3 separate regions of the Homo sapiens genome follow, and regions 1 and 2 are each linked to region 3. Evidence: fine-mapped QTL for protein levels in blood plasma. Region 3 holds a variant in brackets. A gene starts in each other region. All regions are shown on their reverse strands.

Region 1 (8,183 bases), not on the chromosome of region 3:
GGGATTACAGGCACCTGCCACTATGCCCGGCTAATTTTTATATTTTTAGTAGAGACGGGGTTTCACCATTTTGGCCAGGCTGGTCTTGAACTCCTGACCTCGTGATCCACCCGCCTTGACCTCCCAAAGTGCTGGGATTACAGGCGTGAGCCACCATGCCGGGACTTATACTTCTTAATCTTGCATATTTCATTGCCTAGGGCCTTCAGGCAAAGATGAATAAAAGAAAATGATAGTAGGCTGGCTGGGCACAGTGGCTTCTGCCAGTAATCTCAGCACTTTGAGAGGCTGAGGCAGGCAGATGGCTTGAGTCCAGAAGTTTGAGACCAGACAGGCCAATATGGCGAAACCACATCTTAAAAAAAAAACAAAAAACCAAAATGTAGCCAGGCATAGTGACTTGTGCCTGTGGTCCCAGCTACTCTGGAGGCTGAGGTAGGAGGATTACTTGAGCCTGGGAGGCAGAGGTTGTAATGAGCCAAGATTGTGTCACTGCACTCCCGTCTGGATGACAGAGTGAGACCCCATCTCAGAAAAATGAATGAATGAATGAATGAATGAATGAATAAAAATAAATAAATAAAAAGAAAAGAAATGATAGTGGCTACATTTGTCTTTTTCTGACTTTCTTAGAAATTCTTCTCATGGTTCACCATACTCAATGGTGTGCTGGAGATGGCTCGCACTGACTCACAAGAGCTCACTGTTAACTTTTCAGGAGTTGGTGAGATCGTGTTAAACTGTCGATGGCTGGAAATTGGCCATGGGAATTGGACCACAGAAATGGACACCACAGAAATTGGAAAACACCACAAAATGACAGCATCCCCAGCCTGTTAAACATTTACCAGCACATCACTGTCGTCAGTCTTCTTCATTTTCAACATCCCAACTGCCATCAGAGAGAGGCCAATAGAGTCCGATATAGGACGATAATATAGCAATACACATGTCATACACAAATAAAGAATTACAAATGAGGGTAAACCTAAAACACAAGCGAACTTGATCATAACTGGTAGAAATGACATGTGAACACTGATAAGAATTGGAAGAGATAAGAGAATCTTGTAAATAATGAAGAACAGATTCAATGTGGTTCGATGCTGCTGCTATTTGGCAAGTTTAACTTTATTTCCTCAAATTAAAGATCCATGGATAAAGGAATAAAAAAAAAATAGGGGCTATGGTGGTAGGGATGGGCCTGGGATTGGGATAGGTCCCAGCTATGGGGCTAGGAGAGGAATAAAGCAGACATCAAAGCTGGAAACGACTTGTGTTTGAATCCCAGTTCCATCACTTCCTGCTGTGAGATCTTGGGCAAATCACTTAGTCTCTTGGAGCCTCAGTCCCTCATCCGTGAAATGGGGATACAAAGATGTACCTCGCCCACACTGGCCAGCAGACCAAGGCTCCCACTCCCCTGGGCCCTCTCTGGCTTCTTTCTCCTTAGCTCAGCAGGTCCACTTGGGGTTCTGGGCTCCCAGAGAGGTGCTTTATCCCCTACCCAGGCCCCATAGCTCCAGCCCCGGCCCCCTAGTGTCCCTGCATTTAACGATCCCTCCTTCAGGCATCCTACCCAGAGGCTGGTTCCCAGGCACTCTAGCACCTGTGGCTGGACTTCAATATCTGGGGAGGTGGAGGCCAGGAGGGGAGAGTTGAGGGCACAAGCAGGGCGAGGCCAGCATGTCCAGGGTGATGCTGTGGGCTGGGTCTGGAATGCAGCAATGGTTGGCCCAGCCTCGGGAGGCCTCAGGAATATCTCTGACACCAGGCGAGGAGTCTTCTTTATCCCCTGATATGTCTATCTTGTACCCAGCCTATGGAAATCTCCCTCCAGCACACCTGGGCAGAAAGGAAAGGCGCCGAGCCCAGCCCTGGACAGATCTGGGTCCGGTCCTGCTCTGACATCTACTACTGGTGTGACCTCGGGCAGCAAGAGTGAGACAATGGCCAAGACTCAGGCGGCTCCTTCTGTGCCCCAAGCCTTGCTCGGTGCTTGACCTGCATGATCTCCCTGAGGACTCAGTGCCCATAATGTTGGTACCAGGATTATGCCCCACCACCCCTCCCTCTTCCCTCTGCAGCTCCTGTCCCCAGCCTGGGGAAGGAGAGATATCTGTTACCTGGAAAGACGAACAGAGAGATCAGTAAAGACTCATCGGGGCCCCGTTTTTCGACCCCACACCAGTACTCCCCAGCGTCTTGCAGGGTGAGGTTCCACAGGGTCACAATGAGCGAGAGCTCCTGGCGGCTGTCACGGATGGACACCCTGCCCTTCATTGTCTCCTGGCCTTCTTCTTCTGCATAGATGGTGCCAGAGCAGCGAGAGAAGAGGATCCCACCCTTCCTGCACCAGTACTTCCGGTGGTCCCTCAGCTCTTCCCTGTAGGTGCACTGCAGGGACACAGTGTCCCCTTCGAACCCGCTGATTTCCTCTGGGCCCTCCAGGGCTTCATAACCTAAAATCAGAGCAGGAGTGGAGGTTGGAAAAACCAGGCTCCATGTACCAAGGTCAAGGCCAGAGCTTCCATTTTAGGAGGAAGAAGGAAGGCTTTTCTCAGTCATCCCTTCTGGGGACAGCCTTGGAAGAGCCATTACTAACCTCCCACGCTGGGGGAACTTGGGGCAGGGCTGTTGCTGTTTCCCTAACCCTGGCCCATTGAGGAATTGGGGTGCAGGGGTGGCGTTCTAGATTCAGATAGAATCTGACAGCCAGATAGCCAGCAGGGTTTCTGAGTGTTTTGTTTTGTTTTGTTTGTTTGTTTGTTTGTTTTTGAGATGGAGTCTCACTTTGCCGCCCAGGCTGGAGTGCAGTGGCCCGATGTCTGCTCACTGAAACTTCTGCCTCCCGGGTTCAGGTGATTCTCCTGCCTCAGCCTCCTGAGTACCTGGGACTACAGCCACGTGCTGCCATGCCCGGCTAATTTTTTGTATTTTTAGTAGAGACGGGGTTTCACCGTGTTAGCCAGGATGGTCTTGATCTCCTGACCTTGTGATCCGTCCGCCTCAGCCTCCCAAAGAGCTTGGATTACAGGCGTGAGCCACCGTGCCTGGTTTTGTTTTGTTTTTAGACAGGATCTCACTCTGTTGCCCAGGCTGGAGGGCAATGGTGCTCATGGCTCACTGTAGCCTTGACCTCTGGGGCTCAAGCGATCCTCCCACCTTAGCCTCCCACTAGCTAGGACTACAAGTGTGCACCACCATGCCTGGCTAATTTTGTTTGTTTGTTTGTTTGTTTGTTTGTAGAGATGGGGTCTCACTATTGCCAACTGAACAACTGACATCAGTTGTAGGATTTATCCTGATTTTAAGTGTTAGAAGGTAAAGAAAAAGAAAGCAAAAGAATTGATGAAACGTGATAATTCTTCATCTTTCAGGGTTGTGGGGAGAGGCATAGCCGAAATTCAACAAATATTTGCTGAGTTTAACAGGGCAACCAGATGGGGTGTCTTGTCCGCCTCCAGGCTTGGCACAGGGTAGAAAAATTAAGATTAGAGAGGCAAAGCAACTCTCACAGCCACATTGCCATGAGGGGAAACCCACAGGTCTGGAGAAAACCTGGCTCTAGGTTCCAGAAACAGCAAGTGCGGCCCCGGCGCCACCCCCACCTCCCCCCACCCCCAGCCCGCCCCGCTCCCCTAGGGCTGAGGAGGCTGAGGATAGGTGGGGTGGGGCTATCAGTCAGTCAAGAGGTCCTTTCCCTGCAGACCACAAGGGTGAGCCCCACATCCCTCCCGAGACCCTCTCCCCATCTCACCTGGGAGCAGCAGGCAACCCCATAGCAGGACCAGAAGCCGCATTCTGGGCGCTGGACACCGTGGGAGCAGACGCTGGGAACTGTGAGCTCCTCTTCAGTCACACGGGTCTTTAACTTTCTCTAGTCGCGTGAAACCAGGCCAAGGAAGCGAGGGGAGGGGCGTGTGGGTCATCCCTCCGCAGGCCCAGCCGGGGAGGCGCCTCTGCCTTCCCTTTTCTGAGCGCCCACGCGTGCCTACCCCAGGGCTCACCTTCCAGGACTGAAAACCCACACCAGAGTTTCTCCTAAACTCGTGCCCCTTCAAGGGGGCCTTAACCTGTGGTCCGTGCGCCCTAAGGGGTCTGTAAGTCGAATTCGCATGGGAAAAAGTTACATATTGACTTTCATCAACTTCTAATATTTAGCTTTTCCTCTTATTCAGAGTGTACTGTTAGCAGTACCTGCAACTTTGTTACCAATTACAATCACAGACACTGGCACATCAAGTTGTGGATATCTCGAAACGTCGTGTATACCCCTCACTGCTTGGAAAACAATGAGTTCCTAGACCTGCCCCTAGAGCTGGTTATTTACAATAATGAAACGGCTATTATTATATTACACATTTATAAAGAGTTTTAAGAATCATCTCACCAGTATTAGTTTTCTTTCCAGCATATATATTTTATTTATATATTTACCCGCCATTATACTGAGAGAGGGGTCCATAAACTTCACCAGACTGCCATGTGGTCAGTGGGACAGAAAGAAGCTTGCCCCTGGGGCAAGGCCCCTGGCCCCTCCTCCGCCCTTGCCTTTTGGAGGACGCAGTACTGCCCTTGGCCACGGGGCGGCGGTGCAGACGGGGCTGAGCAAAGCTGTAGGGCTGAGCTGGACCGGATTCCCTGGTGCCTTGGGCCTACAGCGCTGCAAGATAGGTCTCCTCCACGCCTGCGGAGTTGTTTTGGCATTTGAAAAAGTGAATTGGTGGTTTCTCCATCGCAGACTTGAATCCTCCTTGAAAGGACCAAAACAAACATGTACACTACTGGGAGCTCTGACACACTGGCTTCAAAAATGACTTTTTTTTTGGTTTGGTTGCAAAGTTCATACAGGTTGTAAGCAAAATTTTACACAATACAGAACGTAAAAAGGAAAGAAAGAAAAAAGGGAGTGCTTCTTGTAATTCCCCTTCTGCTTTAGAAAAGCACCATTAATATTTTGGCATATATCCTTCCAAATGTTCAGTTGGAATTTTACTGACTTGTCAGGTTAATATCTGAAGCATTAACTCAGTGGTTCTGGGAGGGAAGATTGTGTGTGTGTGAGTCTAGTAACGTGGGGAGAAGTGTTTTAATTTCACAATGACTGCGAAGCACTGCTGCCATTTAGTGGGCAGGGCCAGCTGTTCACGGTGGGGAAAACTGTTACCATGATCTCAGCCCCTGACTCTCTTTTACATGTACAGACTACAAAAGGTGATCTGTTTTTGCAGTTTTAAAAAAACACAGATTAAAAAATATTTATGGCCCAGCATGGTGGCTCACGCCTGTCATCCCAGCACTTTGGGAGGCTGAGGCGGGTGGATCACCTGAAGTCGGGAGTTTGAGACCAGCCTGACCAACATGGAGAAACCCAGTCTCTACTAAAAATATAAAATTAGCCAGGCATGGTGGTGTATGCCTGTAATCCCAGCTACTCAGGGAGGCTGAGGCAGGAGAATCGCTTGAACCCAGAAGGTGGAGGTTGTGGTGAGCTGAGATCACACCATTGCACTCCAGCCTAGGCAACAAGAGTGAAATTCTATCTAAAAAAAGAAAAAAAAGTATTTGTTTATTTACTTATTTTTGAGACAGGTCTCACTCTTGTTGCCCAAACTGGAGTGCAGTGGCGCCATCACAGCTCACTGCAGCCTCAAACTCCCAGGCTGAAGTGATCCTCCCACCTCAGCCTCCCAAGTAGCTGGCACTACAGGCGTGCACCACTGTTGCCTGGCTAATTTTTTATTTTTAGTAGAGACAGGGTCTTGTTATGTTGTCAGGCTTTTCTCAAACTCCTGGCTTCATGCGATCCTCCCACGTCGGCCTCCCAAAGTGCTGGGATTACAGGCACGAGCCACCATGCCCGGCCTTAAAGTAATACTTATTCTAGCATTTGATAGCATATCTTTGCTCTTCTATTTATTTATTTTTGTCCTTACACAGAATAATTTCTGATCCTCTACATTTCTTAAATTCAGACTTATTTATTATATGCAAGGACGAGCATCTGACACTTCATTATGCTTTCTAGTGTCATGGGACCTGAGCACTGACAGATTGAAATATGTGTTATTTGGTTATAAATTGCTTTCCTTTTATTTTTTCTCCCTAGTATAGCTCAGGCACTATAGTGTGATTTTAAAGAAGTAAGTGCTTGTGAAGGCATATTATTTATGATTGTCATTTTAGGAGAGTAAGCGAGGTGTTATTAAATGTTTATTTATATAAAGAGCATGTTGAGTGGATCCCTACCCTCTTCCTGCATATTTGAAGGTCCTTCCCCTCCATTTCCCAGCCCCACACCTAGCCCAGGAGGCTGGCTCAAGAACTCCATTAGAAACAGATTCACCAGACTGGGAAGTGGAGCAAGGGCTGGGGAGAAGGGTGAAAGTGAGGTGCTGGCATGAGCCTCGCACCTAGTTCCACCTTAGGCCACACTCTGGGGTAGATGGGGCCAACAGACAGACCTCCGTGGTGGGCTGGGGATCTGAGAAGAGAGGATATTTTTGTCCTGCTTCCCACCAGAAGCATGGGGAGGTGCCCCACCATCACTGCACCTGGGAGAGGCAATGAGGCACAAGGGCTCCTGGACAGGTCACTGGGCTCGTGACAGCCTCATCACATCCTCAGGAAGGCCTCTGTGTGCCCAAGAGGTACAGTGGCAGGGATGAGGGGACTGAGCTGCTTGGTCTTCGATGGCCACCCTGGTCCAATTCCTCTCGGTTTGGACTTGGACTAAATCACTTCAGCTGCTCCAAGAGGGTCACTTGCTCCTCTTAGATCAAGGTTTCCCCAACCTCAGTACTGTTGACATTTTAAGTTAGATAATTCTTTGTTGTGGGAGACTGTCCTGTGAATTATAGGATGTTTAGCAGCATCTCCAGCTGTACCCCCTAGATGCCAGTAGTCCCTTCCCAGTTGTGATAATCAAAAATGTCTCCAGGCTGGGTGAGGTGGCTCATGCTTATAATCCCAGCACTTTGGGAGGCCAAGGTGAGTGGATCACTTGAGCCCAGGAGTTTGAGACCAGCCTGGGCAACATGACAAAACCCCGTCTCTGCAAAAAATACAGAAAATTAGCCAAGCATGGCAGTGTGCACCTGTGGTCCCAGCTACACACAGGCTGAGGTGACAGAATCACCTGAGCATGGGAGGTCGAGGCTGTAGTGAGTCGAGATCCCATCACTGCACGCCAGCCTGGGTGATGGGAGTGAGACCTTGTCTCAAAAAAAAAAAAAAAAAAAAAAAGGCCGGGCGCAGTGGCTCACGCCTGTAATCCCAGCACTTTGGGAGGCCGGGGTGGGCGGATCACAAGGTCAGGAGATCGAGACCATCCTGGCTAACACGGTGAAACCCCGTCTCTAAAAAAATAAAATACAAAAAAATTAGCTGGGCATGGTGGCGGGCACCTGTAGTCCCAGCTACTCGGGAGGCTGAGGCAGGAGAATGGCGTGAACCCGGGAGGTGGAGCTTGCAGTCAGCTGAGATCACGCCACTGCACTCCAGCCTGGGTGACAGAGCAAGACTCTGTCTCAAAAAAAAAAAAAAAAAAAAAGCCTCCAGGCATTGTCAAACATCCCACTGAGAGGCAAAAATACCCTGGGTTGAGAACTGCTGTCTTAGATGATGAATAACTGTGGAACAAATAAGTGCACTTTTGTGTAAGTTATGTTTATTGTTTATGTAGGTCAGGGTGTTCCATCTTTTGGCTTCCCTGGGCCAAGAAGAAGAATTGTCTTGGACCACACATAAAATACAGTAACACCAGTGATAGCTGATGAGTTAAAAAAATAATCTCATAATGTTTTAAGAAAGCTTACGAGTTTGTTTGGGGCTTCATTTAAAGCCATCCTGGCTGCATGCAGCCCGTGGGCCGCGGGTGGATAAGCTTGATGCAGGCATAGTAACACGGTTTTGGAAACAGGACAGTGGGCAGAACCTAATGCTGAACCCCAGAATCAGGTAAAACTGCGTCCTTCTTTCCTCAGTGGAGCTGGGCCATCCTCGTAATACTCAGGGTGAGGTGTGGTGTATCAGTTTAGAACACACACTTTTTGCAGGTGGGCCAGCTCACCAGAGAAAAGGAAGAAGAGAGCCGGGTTACACACGCCTTGTTCCTCCTTCAACATTCATCAATCAAATCAGCAGAGGCATGGAGAAAGGCGTGGAGAGGTGTAGAGAGA
Region 2 (8,183 bases), not on the chromosome of region 3:
CTGACACCTGGCCTGGATTATAATGGGATTGAGGGAGCTCTTTCAGAGTGAAGTGAACAAGCCCACTCAGACTTTGGCCCCAGTGGTCAGTCAGAATGGATGGAGTCATGGGGGGCAGGGAGAACCTCCCAAAGAAGTGTACATCCAGTGAGAGCAAGCCTCAATCTATTCATTACCCAATTTGTTCATGTAGTATACACTTATTAAATGCCTAATGTGTCTTAAGCATTTTTCTAGATGCTGGGATACAGTAGAGAATAAAACAAGTCCTTAAGGAGATGACTCTCTTGATTGGGGGAAGAAGGAGACATACAAATAAACAAATAACTGTAAAGTGTGACAAATGGTGAAAAGTACAATAAAAAAGAAACAAATGAAAGGTAAAGTGGGAAAGAGTGCTGAGGTGAGATAGGTTTGCTATTTTATTAAAGAGTGGTCAGGCAGGGCCTCCCACAGGAGGTGGCATTTTAGCAGAAATATGATAGAGTGAGGGAATGAAGGAAGAGTAGGGGAGGTAGAGGCAACACCAGATAGAAAGGTCCTGTGACAGGAAAGCCTTGATGTCTTAGGGCAGTGGTCCTAAACTTGAGCATCAGAGTCCCTTGGAAGGCTTGGTCAACACCCGTTGATGAGCCCCCACCGTTGGATTTCTGGTCCATTAAGTCTGGGGTGAGGCCTGAGAATGTTCATTCCTAACAAGTTTCCTGGTGATGCCGATGCTGCTGGCTTGGGGACAACACATCGAAAATCACTTCCTTAGAGGAGTAGCTGTGCAGTCAGGGTGGCTGGAAAGCTCAAGTAGGAAGGGGAAGAGTAGTCAGGGGCAGATTGACTCACACTCTGATGTGCATAGAAACCACTTGGGTCTGTCAAAATGAAGATGCTAATTCTGTAGGTCTGGGGTGGATCCTCAAATGCTGCATTTCTAAGAGAAAGCTCTTGAGTGACACAGATCACTTTGGCCTGTGGACCACACTTTGGGAATCAAGGCTCTAGGGCCTTTACTTTATGTTGAAGGAGAAGTCATTAGATGGTTGGAGCAGAGAAATGACATGATCTGAAGGATATTAAAAGGAGAGCTCTATGTTGTGCAGAATAGTCTTTAGGGAGCAAAGGCAGAAAGGGAAGCACAGTTATGAGGCCTGTCAAAGGACCAGCCCAGACATGAGGTGGCTGACCAAGGTAGGGGCAGTAAAAGTGCTGAAAAGTCTCAACTGTAGTATGATTTGAAAGTAGATCTAGGCCAGGCGTGGTGGCTCATGCCTGTAATCTCAGCACTTTGGGAGGCTAAGGTGGGCGGATCACAAGGTCTTGAGTTCAAGACCAGCCTAGCCAACATAGAGAAACCCCATCTCTACTAAAAATAGAAAAACTAGCCTGGCATGGTGGTGGGCACCTATAATCCCAGCTACTCGGGAGGCTGAGGCAGGAGACTCGCTTGAACCCAGGAGGCGGAGGTTGCAGTGAGCCGAGATGGCACCACTGCACTCGAGCCTGGGTGACATAGCAACACTCCATCTCAGGAGAAAAGAAAAGAAAAGAGAAAAAAGAAAAGTAGATCGAGTAGATCGAATAACATTTGCTGACAGATTGTGTGTCAGGTGTGAGAGAAAAGCAAGAGTTAGGGGCAACTCTAACATTCTGAGCCGAAAATCTAGAAGGAGTGAGTCACATTTACTGAAATGAAAAGGACTGAGAGGAGCAGGTCTTGGGATGGAGGATAAGAAACGTTTACTCAGCCTTGTGAGGCAAAAAGAAGATGGTAAAAAGGTGGCAATTTTCTCTATATGATTTTCCCAATTTATGGTGTTAGAATCTGGCCATATGGCTAACCCAATCAATCCTGGTGGTTTGGTTGAAATGGCCTAAAAAGAAGATTTACATGGTAATGAGATTTCTCCACTGGGGTCAAGGATCAGAGGTGGTGGTGGGCCTAAAGAGTACAAAATGGCAAAGAGGTAAATAATTAATTTTTATTAGATAAATAATGATGAGATTAGAAAAACTCTAATTCTAATCCCATTTCTGTTGTAAAATACAGCAGATTCTCTGAACTGTTTACACAATGGCTAACTCTAAAGAGAGATATTTTAGTGCCTGGCTCTGAAGTCTTGGGACCCATTTATGCATTCACCCATTTACCTTCCTAAACTATTTCTGCTCTGCCTATGCAGCCATTCTCCAGCTATTCCAATTAAATATCAACTAACTGGCTTCTCTGTGAGTGAGACAAAGCCAGAAAAATTGACCCTTAGTTATTGGTATGTTAGTTTTGTAGCCTTCAGATAGCACTGAGCTATTAAGGTATGGGCTACAAGATCTGGAAGTAAGCCCCATCACTGCTACCTATGATCTTGAGCAAGTCACTCTACCCATGAGAAGCCACCTGTCGCTTCCCAAAAAAATGAAAACAGCACTTACTCCACGACAAGACTGGACAAATAAATATGCAATTGCATATAAAAGCTTTTGTAAACTGAAGGTACTTATTATCATGAATAGCTCTGCTTCCACAAATCCTGACCTAAGACACTGGGAATGCAGAGGCTTCTCTCTCATTTCAGAAGCAGGACAACAGAGAGAAAACAGAGATGATGACTCAGCTTCTCTCTCCTCTCAGTAATGGATGAGACTGATGAATTTCTTCAAGAAATATATTTGTAAATGAGATGTCTAAGTGGAGATTGCTTTACACTCACCCCTAAGTCTCAACCGAGGAGTTGTTAGTGAATATGATGGGCCAGTGGAGGGGTTGGGTTTTGTTTCCCCACTAAATATAACCAGAGGCTTATTCTTATATTTTTCTTTAACAATCGGAATAATTATCTATTTGCTTTCCTTTTCCTCCAAATACAAATTGGAAAAATAAAATTTTTATAAAGAGAAACTTGTTACATATTTCTAGATCCATTGAGGACTTCCTAGCTCTCCTAGAAAGTCTGGTCTAACTATCTTCTCTTTCCGCATTTTTATCTTTCAGAAAATGCAATTTCTCACAAAGCACCAAAAAATATTTCTCCCCCAGAGAATCACAATACAGTATTAGGAAGGAAAGTGTTCAGTAATCCCACCACTGGGTTTCAAGTAATTTCAAGACTTTAATAACACAAAAATTGAACTCACCTAAATTGATTTCTGAAATATCCTTCTGTTCACCAAAATCTGCATCATGTACTGTTAAAAGTGAGAAAAAAAATTATTATTAGTCTTGCCGAAGGAAAAAAGTTCAAAAACACTCTCTGTGCATTTGAACTAATTCTTACCATTTTCTTCAGGAAGATACTTAATCTGAAAAAAATAAATATACAGAAAATGGATAATGTATACTAGAATTAATATTTCTAAATATCCAAAAAGCAGGACTCGACTTACCGGTACAGCTGCTATGTGGGCAAAAAGCAAGGTAAAAAAGAGAATGCAAGTGGATCTAATCCAAGCCATTGCTGCAAGTGAGCTGATTTTAGCACACACCTTGTCATAAATACCGTTTAGACTTTACCCTGACGGTCGTATTAGAAACTTTGACCCTTCCATATGTACCGTAGTGCCAATAAAGGTTGTCAAAGATAACATCATTGACTCTTTCGAGGACAAACACTAAGTTTACCTTAAATGCTTAAGCTCCAAAGACTGGGGAAAAGTTTGAAAAATTAATACGGAAATGAGCATATAAGAACTAATAACATTCCTATAGGGCAGCCATAGCCATTCATATCATAAAACAGGATAGACGATCCCCTTAACAATAAAAATAAAAATAATTTATAAAATTATTATTATTTAATTCTAATAAAATATAAATTCAAATTTTATGGAAATGTTATAAAGCAATTATTGAAGGACATAAAAATACCTGACTCTCTCTCTATATGTACATATGTATGAAATATTAATAGATTGTTTTAATATTAATCTATAAATTCATTGTCATTCTAGTAAAAAATCTAACAGGGTTTTCAGTGGAACTTGCCAAGCTGACAAATGGTTCAATTCGCATGAAAGAGTAAACATTGAAGAATAGATAAGAAAATTCTGAAAAGGCTGAATAAAGAGAAAAGAATTGCCTCAAAAGAATATCAGGAGCTTTGGTAAAGTTACAGTAATTAGAGTGTAATAGTTCCAAAAATAAAGATAAAATGAATCTATAGACTGGAATAGGTAATATCCAAATAGATGCAAGCATATGCAGGGCTTTTATGTATAAGAGGAACCAAAAAGGCAAGAGGGAAACTTGGGTCTCTTTCATAATAATGTGGGAATAATTGCATTTCCATATGAGGAAATACATTAAATGTACACCTGATACCATTGACAAAAATAAATTCTAGATAGATTAAAAATTTAAATATGAAAATATAAACTTCAAAAAAGAAAATATAGGAACATATTTTTAACCTTTAGGTCAAGAAAGATTGCTTAAACATGAAAAAAACATAGAAATTACAGAGGAAAAGAATAATACATTTGACTGTATCAAAATTTAAACTTCTTTATGACAAAAACATAACATGATTAAAAGACAAGCCACAGGTGAGAGATGATATGTATACTGCATATAATTGAATAAGAATAAGTATTCAGGATATGTAAAGAATTTCTACAAATCAATAAAAAGAACAGGAGATTATCTAAGGAAAAAATGAACAAAAAATATGAGTAGCAAATTCACAAAAGACCCAGATGGCCAATAAATATGTAAAAAGATTTTTAGCCTCGTAAGTAATCAGAAAAATTATAGGTTCAAATAGCAGTAAAATACCACCTCAAGCTAAGATTGGCATAAATTAAGAAGACTGACAATATCAAGTGTCAACAAGAAGGTAAGAAAATAGGAAATCTAGTAGGACATCAATTTGATGCTATCTAATGAAGTTGAAATGTGCACAGTTCATAAGATAGAAACTTCACTTCTAGGTCTATATGCTAAAGGAACTCACACATATGTGCACAAAATTCCACATAGCATATTCATTGAAGTTTTTTTGTTATGGTAAAGAATGGGGAAAATGTGTTTATACTAAAAGAAAAGATAAATTATGGAATATATTCAGCCATGCACAGGTAAATGTTTAATAATCGGCTCTTTTAAAAAAAGTAAAAACAAACAAGCAAACAAACAAAACCAAGCCTTTATTTGTAGTGTTTGTTGATTGCCATGGTCAATTTCAAGCTACCAACACCATGTCACTGAATGCAGTGTTGGGAAGAGATGTACACAGTGGGCTCCATCTGCGCCAGCACAATACTAAATATATGCACACACCCACCTATTCTTGCCTGCACCAGATATAAGAATCTTTGGCATTAGAGCAATCTTCAAGGTCTAGAGCCTGCATCTCTCTACCTCAGACTTACTACTGGGCAGGTGGGCTAGTCCTGCTGTCAAAAAAGCATTTCCTGTCACAAAAGACTTTTAGAAGGTGAACAGTAGAGCTTCTTGAGCTGTAAAATAGGAGGCATGTCAACTGGGGGCCTGCTTCTGATGGGCAGAAGCGTTCTATGGCTGATTTTTGTTTTACCTAAGCCACTGATGGTGAGGTGATAAAAGGCCATCTTCCACCGTCTCTAACCATTACAAACCACTAATATTATTTTTTAAACGAAACAAAACAAAACAAAAAGCCAAATTTGCCCAACAGCCGCAATGACTTAAGTGAGCAACTACAATCTAGACCATTTAAAAATTGGGCAATAATCAAATTTTAAAACTGGCCAACATCGTAAGAATAATTGGCTTTAAGTATCAGTGTGGAAAACATATGAGACTTTTATTTCTTAAATGTGTTGTTTAATTTTTCTCAAATTCTGAAGCAATTATGGTAAAACTGAATATTTGGTAAAACTGAATATTTGTTAATCTTGGAAACCAGGAAGTAGGAGTTTGTTATTTTATTTTCTAAAGAAAAAGGCAGTGCTGTTGCTTTGGTACACCTCTCTACTAAATCTCAGGTATCAGGATTTCAAACAGGGAATAGTGAGGCTGTTTAATTCTCTCCACCTTCTCTTGCTTCCAGCCAGATGTGTTTTTATCTTTCCCTGCCTTCTTAAACTTATCTGAATGATATACTACAACAATGGCTTTGGAATCAGATAAGCAGGAACTCCACCTCTACCATTGACTAGCTACAGTAATTTTAGTACCTGCTTTTTATGTGTAGAATGGATAGTGGTGCCTACTTCATGGGGCCAATGTAAAGATTCAATGAGATAACATATGTAAACCACAGCTACTAGAAACATAGGAAGCACTCAATAAACTGCTCCTTCTACCTGCTAGTTAGCAACTGCCTCCTAGCAAAACATGGGCACTAAAAACACAGCTCAGCCCACTCCTTGCTCAGTAGAATCTCCAGTGATGAGAACATAGGTCTTCAGCAGACACAACTTGCCCCCAATTATTTTATTGTCACAATCTTAATGGCAGATGTTAATTAGTTACCAGCTATTTGCAATCCTAGTCACTTCTTCATTGTGTCAGGGTATCAAATGAGTAAGGCTGGGGCCTTAAGTCCTTCATTTGAAGGGTTTATGGCTTTTCAGTTTAAAGAAGATTATGCACTCTGTGGTCAAGGTCCATGCTTTATTTCCTGTATTTGCCCCAGTGTTTGGAAACATAGTAGGTAATTAGTTCTCATTTTAACTGAAAAAAGTAAATAGAAATTTCTCTGAAGGTATCGGATGGGGTGACTTGCTTTGATCTCAGGAAGGGCATTTCATAAACTGACCAGTTGAGAAAGTGGTCTGAAGCTTAGAGGAAGAAAGCCATTGACAGGTAGAAAATGGAAAAACCCGCCCCCAGCTATTTCCACACACTCTCCAGCTTCATAAAAGCTCAGGCAAGGAGTTGGGCTAAGAGACTTGCAAAGTCCTCTCACCCCAAACCCTTCTCAAGGATGTTCTCTGCCCTCTTTCTACTCTATTGCAAGATGCTGATTCCTTCTGCTTCACTCACAGAGTTCTGCCTTCAACCAGCTGTCAGCTAACCTGAAACACAACAGTCCTTGTTCCTCCCAGGGCAATCAACATATTAACAGGGGCCCAAAGGTGTATAGAGCAAGAGTCGGCAAACTGTCTGTAAAGGGCAAAGAGATATATGTCAAGCATTGTGGGCCATATGAGCCCTGTTGTAGCTATGTAACTCTCCTGTTGTATGTAGCATAAAGTAGCTGTAGACAATAATGTAAAGGTGTGAACATGGCTGTGTTCCAATAAAACTTTATTCACAAAAACAAAGCAAAGGGTCATAGTTTGCTGACCCCTGGGTTTTAGAGAATAACCCTCAAGGTGGTGGAAATTGAGACGGTGATAATAATTATAACAGAAGCAGTAGCAGCAACCAACATGTACATAGTACTTACTGTGGGCCAGGCAGTATTCCAAGTATCTAAGGGTAATTATCCATTCAATCCTCACAACAATCCTACGAAGAAGCAACTATTATTATCTCCATTTTATATATTAAGAAACTGAGATGAAGAAAAATTAAGGAACCTTCTCAAGGTCATGCAGATCCTGAACAATGCTCCTAAATTCCACCTGAGAGGCAGTTCTTTACACCTATGTCTGGCCTTTGACAGCCCAGGAGTGAGGCCTCCACCATTATGCTGTAGCATGCAGACCCCTGGTTTCACAGGGTTCCATCTCTAACAGTTTACTAAGAAGAATTAACCCTGAGGGAAACAGTTCCCAAGCTATAGATTCCTTCAAAATCCTCTGGATGGTTTGTTGAGGTACAAATTTCTTGGCTTGGAATTTGGAAATCCTGACTCACGTCAAATGGTGAGTTCCAGAGATCTGCATTTTTAATAAGCACCCTTGTGACTCTGATGCAGGTAGTCTGTGGAACACACTTTGATGAACAGGACACTGTGGAATTTGCATCAGTCAGATGCTTCCACTCTCACTGTGGTTATCGAATAGCTTTCCTCTGATTCCCTTTGTATAAGAAAATCAAAAGATCATAGAACCTTCAGTTTCCTAATAGGGAATACATCAGATGTTAAGAATTCGAGAGATCATCAACACAGAAGTCCATTTCAGAAGGCCTCCAGGAAACAGCCCCTCTGCAGTGTGGTTTGAGGACCTGCATTTTTAACAAGCTTGGGGGTTATTTCTATATGGAAAATGTGAGACCTGCTGACCTGGGCAGGCAACTGTGTTTTGGAGTGTGTACAGACACCAAT
Region 3 (8,169 bases):
ACTCTTGAGTTCTTTGTTGGGGATCTGATTTGGAAGGCCTTCTGTCTGTCGTGTCTTTGTGTGTGTTTGTATATGTGGAGGGGATCTCAGAAGAAATTGCTGATGGAAGTCCAGCAGGCCTAACTTGGAGAATCCTCCTTATTTGTCTGGTCACATTTGGTGAGCCCTGAAGAAAGCTCGATAGGCCTTTCTCGGGGTGACTATTGGCTCTTTGCCTTGCCCAGAGACCCCACTGTGAATTATCATTTGGAGGTCATCCCTCCCCAGCTGGAATGGATCAAAGACAACAGGGACCGTCTGGAGAAAGTTTGAGCTTTGCTAGGTTGATATTGGGTGCTGAATGGGGTGACTAGTGTCTGTTTTGTTTTGTGTATTTTGCTGGGATGGAAAATGTTCATTCAGTTCCCCAATGCAGCCCATTGGGCAACATCTTGCAAATTGATTATCTTTTGCCTATGGTTCCATAAAACAGAAAAGGGTGATTTTCTTTTGTAAAGTGGCTTGAATCCCACAGCTATGGCACAGCGAGCAGGGTCATCAGAAGGTGCTCCATTCTTCTGGAAGCTGCAGAGAAAGGGAACCCATAAATCTGGTATGCCAAAAAAGGATAAGAAATTCTTACCAGCCAAGTTTCTGGTCTCTCTTTCTCTGTCTGCATAAATGGTAAATGTCACTATATTTGTCTCCTCTGCAAGAGTTTGATTAATAGAAAAATGGATTTGTGAGACTGGTCTTAGGCTGTAGCAAATCTGGTGTACTTTGTACTAAAAGTTTGTCTTTCTATATTCTGTAATGGAGAAAGGAGTATCACAGGATACAATGTGGGTTTAGGATCCCTATAAGCCCATTTTTCAAGCCAACCCAGCAGACTGGTCAATTACAAACTATGCTACGGGTCCCTGAAAACAATACTCGGTAAGATCGGTCTTGTTTTGTGTCCTTAAGAGCTTAACCTTGTGGGGATACTTTATCTTGGTTTCTGCCATCCAGAGGACAGGAATTTTGAGGTTCATGTCACAGCCCTAAGAATTATCTTGAGCAGTTAAAAGCCTTCTCAAACTCAAAATTGGCCTCTCTAGGCTCCTTTTGGGAAAAGCAATAGAAACTGCTCAATGCTGTATAGTTCAGTAACTAAGGGTTTATCTTTTGACAGTGGTGGCCTGGGTTCAATTCTTGGCTTCTGGAATGATTCCTTTCTGGTTTGTTATGTGTGTAACTTTGCCATTTGAGGTTTTTATGGATAGCTTCTGATTTCTTCTCTTGAATTTTTCTTTCTCTGAACTACCTTAGGGAGATTCTAAATCTAGTAAAAAAGAAACTGCTTACCATGCCTTTGAAGCACCTGGGAGGTTGGTTACTTTTGGTAAAGTTCAAAAGCCAGAAATATTGACTGCATGGATAAAGTCAGGTAATCAGAGATGTGAAAGGATTTTTTTAAAGACCACTATGGTTAAAAGTCAACTTAATTAAAAGTGCATAAGCAAGCTGTAGGTATATTTAAAAGGTCTTTATGCTTTTCTTTTCATGGATCTTGTTTTGCTGGAAAAAGGTTTTTTTTTTCTTTTAGTCGACTGAATTATTTTTCTCCATTTTGTCTTACCACTATTAATGCACACATGAGAGGCCCTAAGATAACTTCTGGTAGCCTGAGATTCCTTGGGAAAAACAGAGGAGGTGCTATAGACCCCATTTTGGGAAAAAACCCTGTTTTCCTCATGAAACCCCAGGAATTAAAAGCAGATAGGTCCCCCTCAAAATCTAAGTCTGTTCTGTTTTGCATTGTGCTATCTAACGGTTTTGAGTCTTGGGGGTATCAAAAATTACTTTGAATTATAGGAGGGCTTGATATATAATAACTAGGTAAAAAATATACTTTAAGAATTGGCTAATGTCAGTTATGAAGACATACTTAGCTCTTTGCAAGCTTGGATCAGAGAAACATGCTCTTGGCCACCTGGAAGATACGGAAACATCCCCAACCCCCACTGAGAGATGAGACTCCCATGGGGGATTGGCTGGTTACAAAATGGGCTGATTGGCTTTGGTTTTCCTTGCGATGACATGTGTGGTGGAAGCACTGCACTGTCTTCTCCTGTAGTATTTCTTTCCTTTTTAGGGATCCAGGATACATATAGAATGGCACCCTAATTTGGGGGATCTGTCTCTCCTTTCCAGCTGTGCCTCCTTATTAGGCCCCAGAAACTGCATGGTTTCCTGGCCCTGTTCCTCCACCCTGAAGCCAGTAATCCAATTAAGAAACTGGTAAATAAAAAATCTTACAAGTGCTGAATCTTCTATCTGTCTGTATTCATATGTGTTGTGTGTGTAATATTTACACAAAAAGAACTCTGTTTAATTGGCTTAAAAATAGATGCCGAAATCAAATATTTTGTCAGAAAAAGAGAAACTTTAATGCCTTTTGTACACGTGACTTTAATAATCTTTTGGAAATAAAGACAGTTTTAGAAATTATTGATAAAAACAAAAATGTCTTCAAAATGTAGACATTTGGTCTAAATTAACGTCAGATATCAGATTTACTAAATGTTTTAAGGTTGTAAGCTGTTTCTTTGACTTTTGAAAATTGTTTAATTTGCCTACTTTGGAAAGAGTTAGGCCTTATCTTCACTTCTGTCTGATGTCCTAGACTCCACACCTAGTACATAATTAAAATCACTTATCAGGTTTTCACCAAAAATAAAAGCTGCTAAGAGGTAACATTGTAACATGTAATTGAGACCACTGGAGAAACAGTTCTACATGTAAGGTGTGTAAGGAAAGTAAAAGATTATAGGAAGGCATGGGAATATGGCTTTTATTAAAGGGAATGTTGCCAGACGCGGTGGCTCACGCTTGTAATCCCAGCACTTTGGGAGGCTGAGGCAGGTGGATCACAAGGTCAAGAGATCGAGACCATCCTGGCCAAATGGTGAAACCCTGTCTCTACTAAAAATACAAAAATTAGCTGGATGCGATGGCACATGCCTGTAGTCCCAGCTACTCAGGAGGCTAAGGCAGGAGAATTGCTTGAATCTGGGATATGGAAGTTGCAGTGAGCCAAGATTGCACCACTGCACTCCAGCCTGGTGACAGAGCAAGACTCCATATCAAAAACAAAACAAAACAAAAAAGGAATATAATTTTGTCTAGTTCAGAGGGTTTAAAGATTATCTTAACCTAAAAGAGTAATGGGACAAAACTGGAGGTTTAAACAAAGTGAAAAGGGCTTATGAAGGGTTGGTCTTGTAAAAAAAAGTTCTGTGGGTATGAGCAAGTTGGCTAATATTGGAAGGGGATTATTTAATTTTTTTTTCTGTAGGTTGAACATTAAAATAAAAGCACACGAATACAGGGCCAGAATCTGAGCCCAGGTGTCCAAATAACAGGGTTTTCTTAGAAAACTGATCGACTGTTTAATGAAAAATTATAAAGTGTTCAAAAAAGTTTATGAAAATCTTACCTTATGGTCAGACTAATTAAGACTGAATACATTTGTAAATTTTTATTGTAAAACCAGCCTTAGCATTAAAAATGCACTAATACAAACATTAAATTTGGTTTTCTCTTTTGAAAAAGATTTTTATGTAAAAGATTTTTTACATAAAAGATTATGTAAAAGATTTTTTATAGTAAAAGAAAATGAAAGGGTTTTGTTTGCCCCTTTGGGTAAACTACAGGGAAAAAGGGGAGGAGAGAGAAGATACGATTCAGTTGGCCTCATGCTATCTTCATTGGGTCTTCTTGTTTGGAAAGCTATGTCTCCTCTATCAGAGTAAAGGGTTTTTCTTTTTAAAATTTTGGAGTTATCATTTTGGTCAAATGAATGACTTATGGTGACCTGGGATTCTATTTTGTGATATCCACAAAATAAATCTTTGATATTTGACAAACTTTCCAAAATCAAATTATAAATTATAATTTGATTATAATTATGTCTCTTTCTAACCTAATCTTTTAGATATTAGGTCCTCTAATGTCCAAAAATGACATCTGGCTTACGTGGTATAAAAATCATACAGGAAGCATTGTCAAATATAAAATGTTGTTTGGCTTTCTTTGGGCTGTATTTGTATAAATATGTTATTAGTATGTGTTCCAAAATTATGAGAAACTCCTATAATTCTGATATGATTGAATGTATGCTGTTAATATAATAGTTATAATTTGTATGTAAAATTGTTGTATGCCACAGAAGTAACCAAATTCCTAGTCAACTGTGGCTTTAATAATGGCCGTCCTAAGATTTGTTGTCATCCACAGACAATTGTTGTCATCCACAGACAATTGTTGTCTTGTTTGATGCTCTTCAAAAGGTGGTTTATAATCAGCTCTAGAACTTTGACAGGTGCTCTTGAATTCAGGTTTCCAATAACTTTGGAGAATGTGACATTAGAATAGAGGAAATAACTTCCAGGACTCTCATGGGGAGCTGAAATGTTCATAAATATCAAACAGAACAGGAGTTAATGGAATTGATTGAACTAATAGAAAACTGAAGTAATCTTTTTTTTTTTTTCTTTTGAAATGGAGTTTCGCTCTTGTCTCCCAGGCTGGACTGTTGTGACATCATCTCGGCTCACTGCAACCTCTGCCTCTCGGGTTGAAGTGATTCTCCTGCCTCGGCCTCCCAAGTAGCTGGGATTACAGGTACTCACCACCATGCCCATCTAATGTTTGTATTTTTAGTAGAGATGGGGTTTCACCATGTTGGCCAGGCTGGTCTCGAACTCCTGGCCTAAGGTGATCCACCCACTTTGGCCTCCCAAAGTACTGGGATTACAGGTGTGAGCCATTGAGCCTAGCCCAGTAATCTTTTGTATTAACTTTTTTGCTTAAAACATTGCTGATCCTTTTTGTTTTCCAGAGCCAAGAAAACTTTTCTTTTAAGCTACTTACAGCTTTTAACAGTTGAATAAAATATACTCCTGTGAAAAAATTTGGAGTATATTTGTTTCTCCCTACCTGATTTTTCCAGAATTTGGAAACTATTTGTGAATATTCTCAACATATGGCAGTATAGTTATTTGCATAAGTACAATGATAATCTGTTTTCTTTTGTAACAGGACACAATGGGAGAAACTGGTTATTTTATCAAGGCTTTGACTAGAATGGCATGCTTT[T/C]TTTAAAGAATCAAAGTTGGCTGGGCGAGGTGGCTCATGCCTGTAATCCCAGCACTTTGGGAGGCTGAGGCAGGCGGATCACCTGAGGTCAGGAGTTTGAGGCCAGCCTGGCTAACATGGTGAGACCCCATCTCTACTAAAAAGAAAAAAAATTCCAAAAATTAGCTGGGCATGGTGACAGGCGCCTGTAATCCCAGCAACTCTGGAGGCTGAGGCAGGAGAATCACTTGAACCCGGGAGATAGAGGTCACAGTGAGCTGAGATCGTGCCATTGCACTCTAGCCTGGGGAACAAGAGTGAAACTCTGTCTCAGAAAAAAAAAAAAGGAGAATCAAAGTTGAGTTATTGAGCTAATAAAAGCCCCTTGGGAAATCTGGCCTTATACCTTGTCTACACAGTCCCTGTTCAAAGTTCCTGACCTGTGGTAAGTAAAGAATGTCACTTTCTAACAGTCTCAGGAGACCCAAGTTTTCTTGGGACCTCAGGAGGAGAGAAATTTACCCAACTCATAGGTATTTGAGTGTACAAACCCATGGCTGGGCTTAGCTTTAAAAAAGTCTTATTTGAGATTCCTTACAGAACAGAGTTCCATCAAAGCCAATTTTAAAGGCCTATGTGAAAAATAGTTATTCTTGGTGTGCTTTGTGCAAATAATCAGGCCAAGTATAATAAGACTAAAGTTTATTTTGTAAACAAATCATTCTATCATGATTTGTTTTTAATAAAAATGGAGACTGAAGAGAGAAAAATTATGCTTCAAAAGAAAAGCTATAGTATACCTGTTGTTCGCTGTTCTTGAGTTTTTCGGCAGTTTGGACAAAATCCTAAATTTTTGTGGGCTACAAGTCTCCAAACTAATGCTTTCAAATCTTTACTTTTAAAACTGGGAATTACACTCCTTACTAGCTCCCTTTTGCCTTCCGCCTTGAGTGGAAGCAGTCTGAGGCCTAACCAGAAGCCCTGCAGATGGGGGTGCCATGCTTCTCGTACAGCTTGCAGAACTGTGAACCAAACATCTTTTGTTTATAAATTACTAAGTCTCAAGCATTCTGTGAAGGCAACACAATAGACTGGGACAGTATCAGAACTGGTCCTAGTGAGGTCCTTGTGAGACCTCTATAGCATGTGCTTCCTTTTAAGTTAGATTTAGTCTGCCATGACTGTGAGAATATCTGAACTACATTGATGAGCTTGGAATTACAATATTATATAAATTGCATTGTCTTGAAAACTAATGGTATTTCCTGAAATGACTCATCCCTGAACTCGATGGAGAGCTTTATTTTTTTCTTGCCACACTCTGTAACTTTGCAGTATAAGAAGTTAACCTAGGCTTGGCTAGTCGCCCACCCCTGTAATCCCAGCACTTTGGGAAGCTGAGGTGGGAAGACTGCTTGAGCCCAGGAGTTCAAGAGCAGCCTGGGCAACATGGTGAAACCCCATCCCTACAAAAGAATGTAAAAGTCATCCAGGCATGGTGGTGCACGCCTGTGGTCCCAGCTACTGCAGAGGCTGATATGGGAGGATCACTTGAACCCAGGCAATTGAGACTGCAGTGAGCCAAGATCATGCCACTGCACTCCATCTTGGGTGACAGGTTGAGACCCTGTCTCAAAAAAAAAGAAAAGAAGAAGAAGAAGAAAGAAGAAGTAGTTACCTATGCTCGTAATCACATAGGGCACTAGGGCAGGTGCCCAGGCACTGCAGGGTAAGGCCTAACGGAATTATGGCTCCGGGCTGGGTGCGGTGGCTCACGCCTGTAATCCCAGCACTTTGGGAGGCCAAGGTGGGTGGATCACCTGAGGTCAGGCATTTGAGACCAGCCTGGCCAACATGGTGAAACCCCGTCTCTACTAAAAATACAAAAAATTAGCTGGGTGTGGTGGTGCACACCTGTAATCCCAGCTACTACAGAGGCTGAGGCAGGAGAATTGCTTGAACCTGGGAGGCAGAGGTTGCAGTGAGCCAAGATTGCACCACTTCACTCCAGTCTGGGTGACAGAGTGAGAATCTGTCTCCAAAAAAAAAAAAGGAATTATGGCTCCAGGAGGATAAGTGTAACCCACCTTCCCTGTAAGGACAAAGGAAAGAGGGGCATTTGGCTGGAGCTATTATGAGCCCATCACTGGCCAGTGCCCAATTCTGGTACTTGCCACAACAAGGTGATCTGGGGACCAGGTAACCATCCCTGGGTAACCCTGGTGTCCTCTCTGAAGGCTGCTGGGGAAGGAGCATGAAGCCTGCTGCTACCTGGTCCTGCTCCTTGCTGTGTCCCAGATTCCACAGGGAAGGAGAAGGGGAATAGCTCTTAGGTCCCTATGGCAGGCTGGGATTTATGACTTATTAGACTTCACCTTACTTAGTGACACTGTTTAGGACTTTCGGACCACATCACTGATCTGGGAGAAGGAATGGCCAGCATTGCTATCCCCATTTTGCAGATGAGGAAATTGAAAGACTGAGGTGATATTCCTGGCCACAGGCCACATCATTCGACGGGGCAGGGCTGAGACACAGGCTCCCAGCCAGCACTGTCCTCTGCTCCCTGGCGATTTACAGGCATTTACAGGTGCCAGGCTCACTGCCCAGAGGTGTCAATATAAACATGATCCTTATCTGGGCTCCACACAACTCTCCTATCTGGCCTCCTCCTCTACCCCCTGAGCCTTTCTTTTTCTTTTTTCCTTTCTTTCTTTCTTTTATTTTTTTTTTGAGACGGATTCTGACTCTGTCGCCCAGGCTGGAGTGCAGTGGCGTGATCTCGGCTCACTGCAAGCTCCGCCTCCCAGGCTCACGCCATTCTCCTGCCTCTGCCTCCCCAGTAGCTGGGACTACAGGCGCCCGCCACCAGGCCTGGCTAATTTTTTGTATTTTTAGGAGAGACGGGGCTTCACCATGTTAGCCAGGATGGCCTCGATCTCCTGACCTCGTGATCCGCCCGCCTCAGCCTCCCAGAGTGCTTGGATTATGGGCTGAGCCACCGTGCCTGGCCCCACTGAGGGGCGGTAAGCCCGAGAGACTGAGATTCAACCACTTGCCTACCAAGTT

Alleles and levels. Positions count from the first base shown, and alleles are read on the strand shown. Strength reflects both the effect of a copy and how common the allele is.
For the plasma level of the protein whose gene starts at base 3,844 in region 1, T is the high allele of the variant in region 3 and C is the other (strong association).
With allele C in place of T in region 3, the plasma level of the protein whose gene starts at base 3,451 in region 2 is lower (strong association).

What was found. PIP is the posterior inclusion probability: the model's chance that the variant is causal. Protein levels are from antibody-based Olink assays in UK Biobank. Linkage for the fine-mapping came from a reference panel and not from the study's own genotypes, which makes the PIPs less certain.
Region 1: it holds the start of CD300LG, and the variant in region 3 is fine-mapped to the plasma level of the CD300LG protein (UK Biobank, PIP above 0.99).
Region 2: MEP1A starts here. The variant in region 3 is fine-mapped to the plasma level of the MEP1A protein (UK Biobank, PIP above 0.99).

Annotation. Positions count from the first base shown.
Region 1 is chr17:43,842,837-43,851,019 of GRCh38, reverse strand. It overlaps CD300LG (CD300 molecule like family member g), which reads right to left and starts at 3,844. Exons shown (of 7, transcript NM_145273.4): 1 at 3,761-3,844; 2 at 2,127-2,462. The coding sequence starts at 3,803. LOC107984979 (a long non-coding RNA gene) reads right to left here. Exons shown (of 3, transcript XR_001753057.2): 3 at 4,545-4,756. LOC107985077 (a long non-coding RNA gene) reads left to right here. Exons shown (of 2, transcript XR_001752896.2): 2 at 719-1,270.
Region 2 is chr6:46,788,657-46,796,839 of GRCh38, reverse strand. MEP1A (meprin A subunit alpha) reads right to left here and starts at 3,451. Exons shown (of 14, transcript NM_005588.3): 1 at 3,373-3,451; 2 at 3,264-3,288; 3 at 3,124-3,174. The coding sequence starts at 3,441.
Region 3 is chr9:133,284,951-133,293,119 of GRCh38, reverse strand. No RefSeq gene overlaps it. Among named protein-coding and RNA genes, the nearest start is that of SURF6, 47 kb to the left of the region's middle. The variant T/C (reference allele first, on the strand shown) is at 5,122.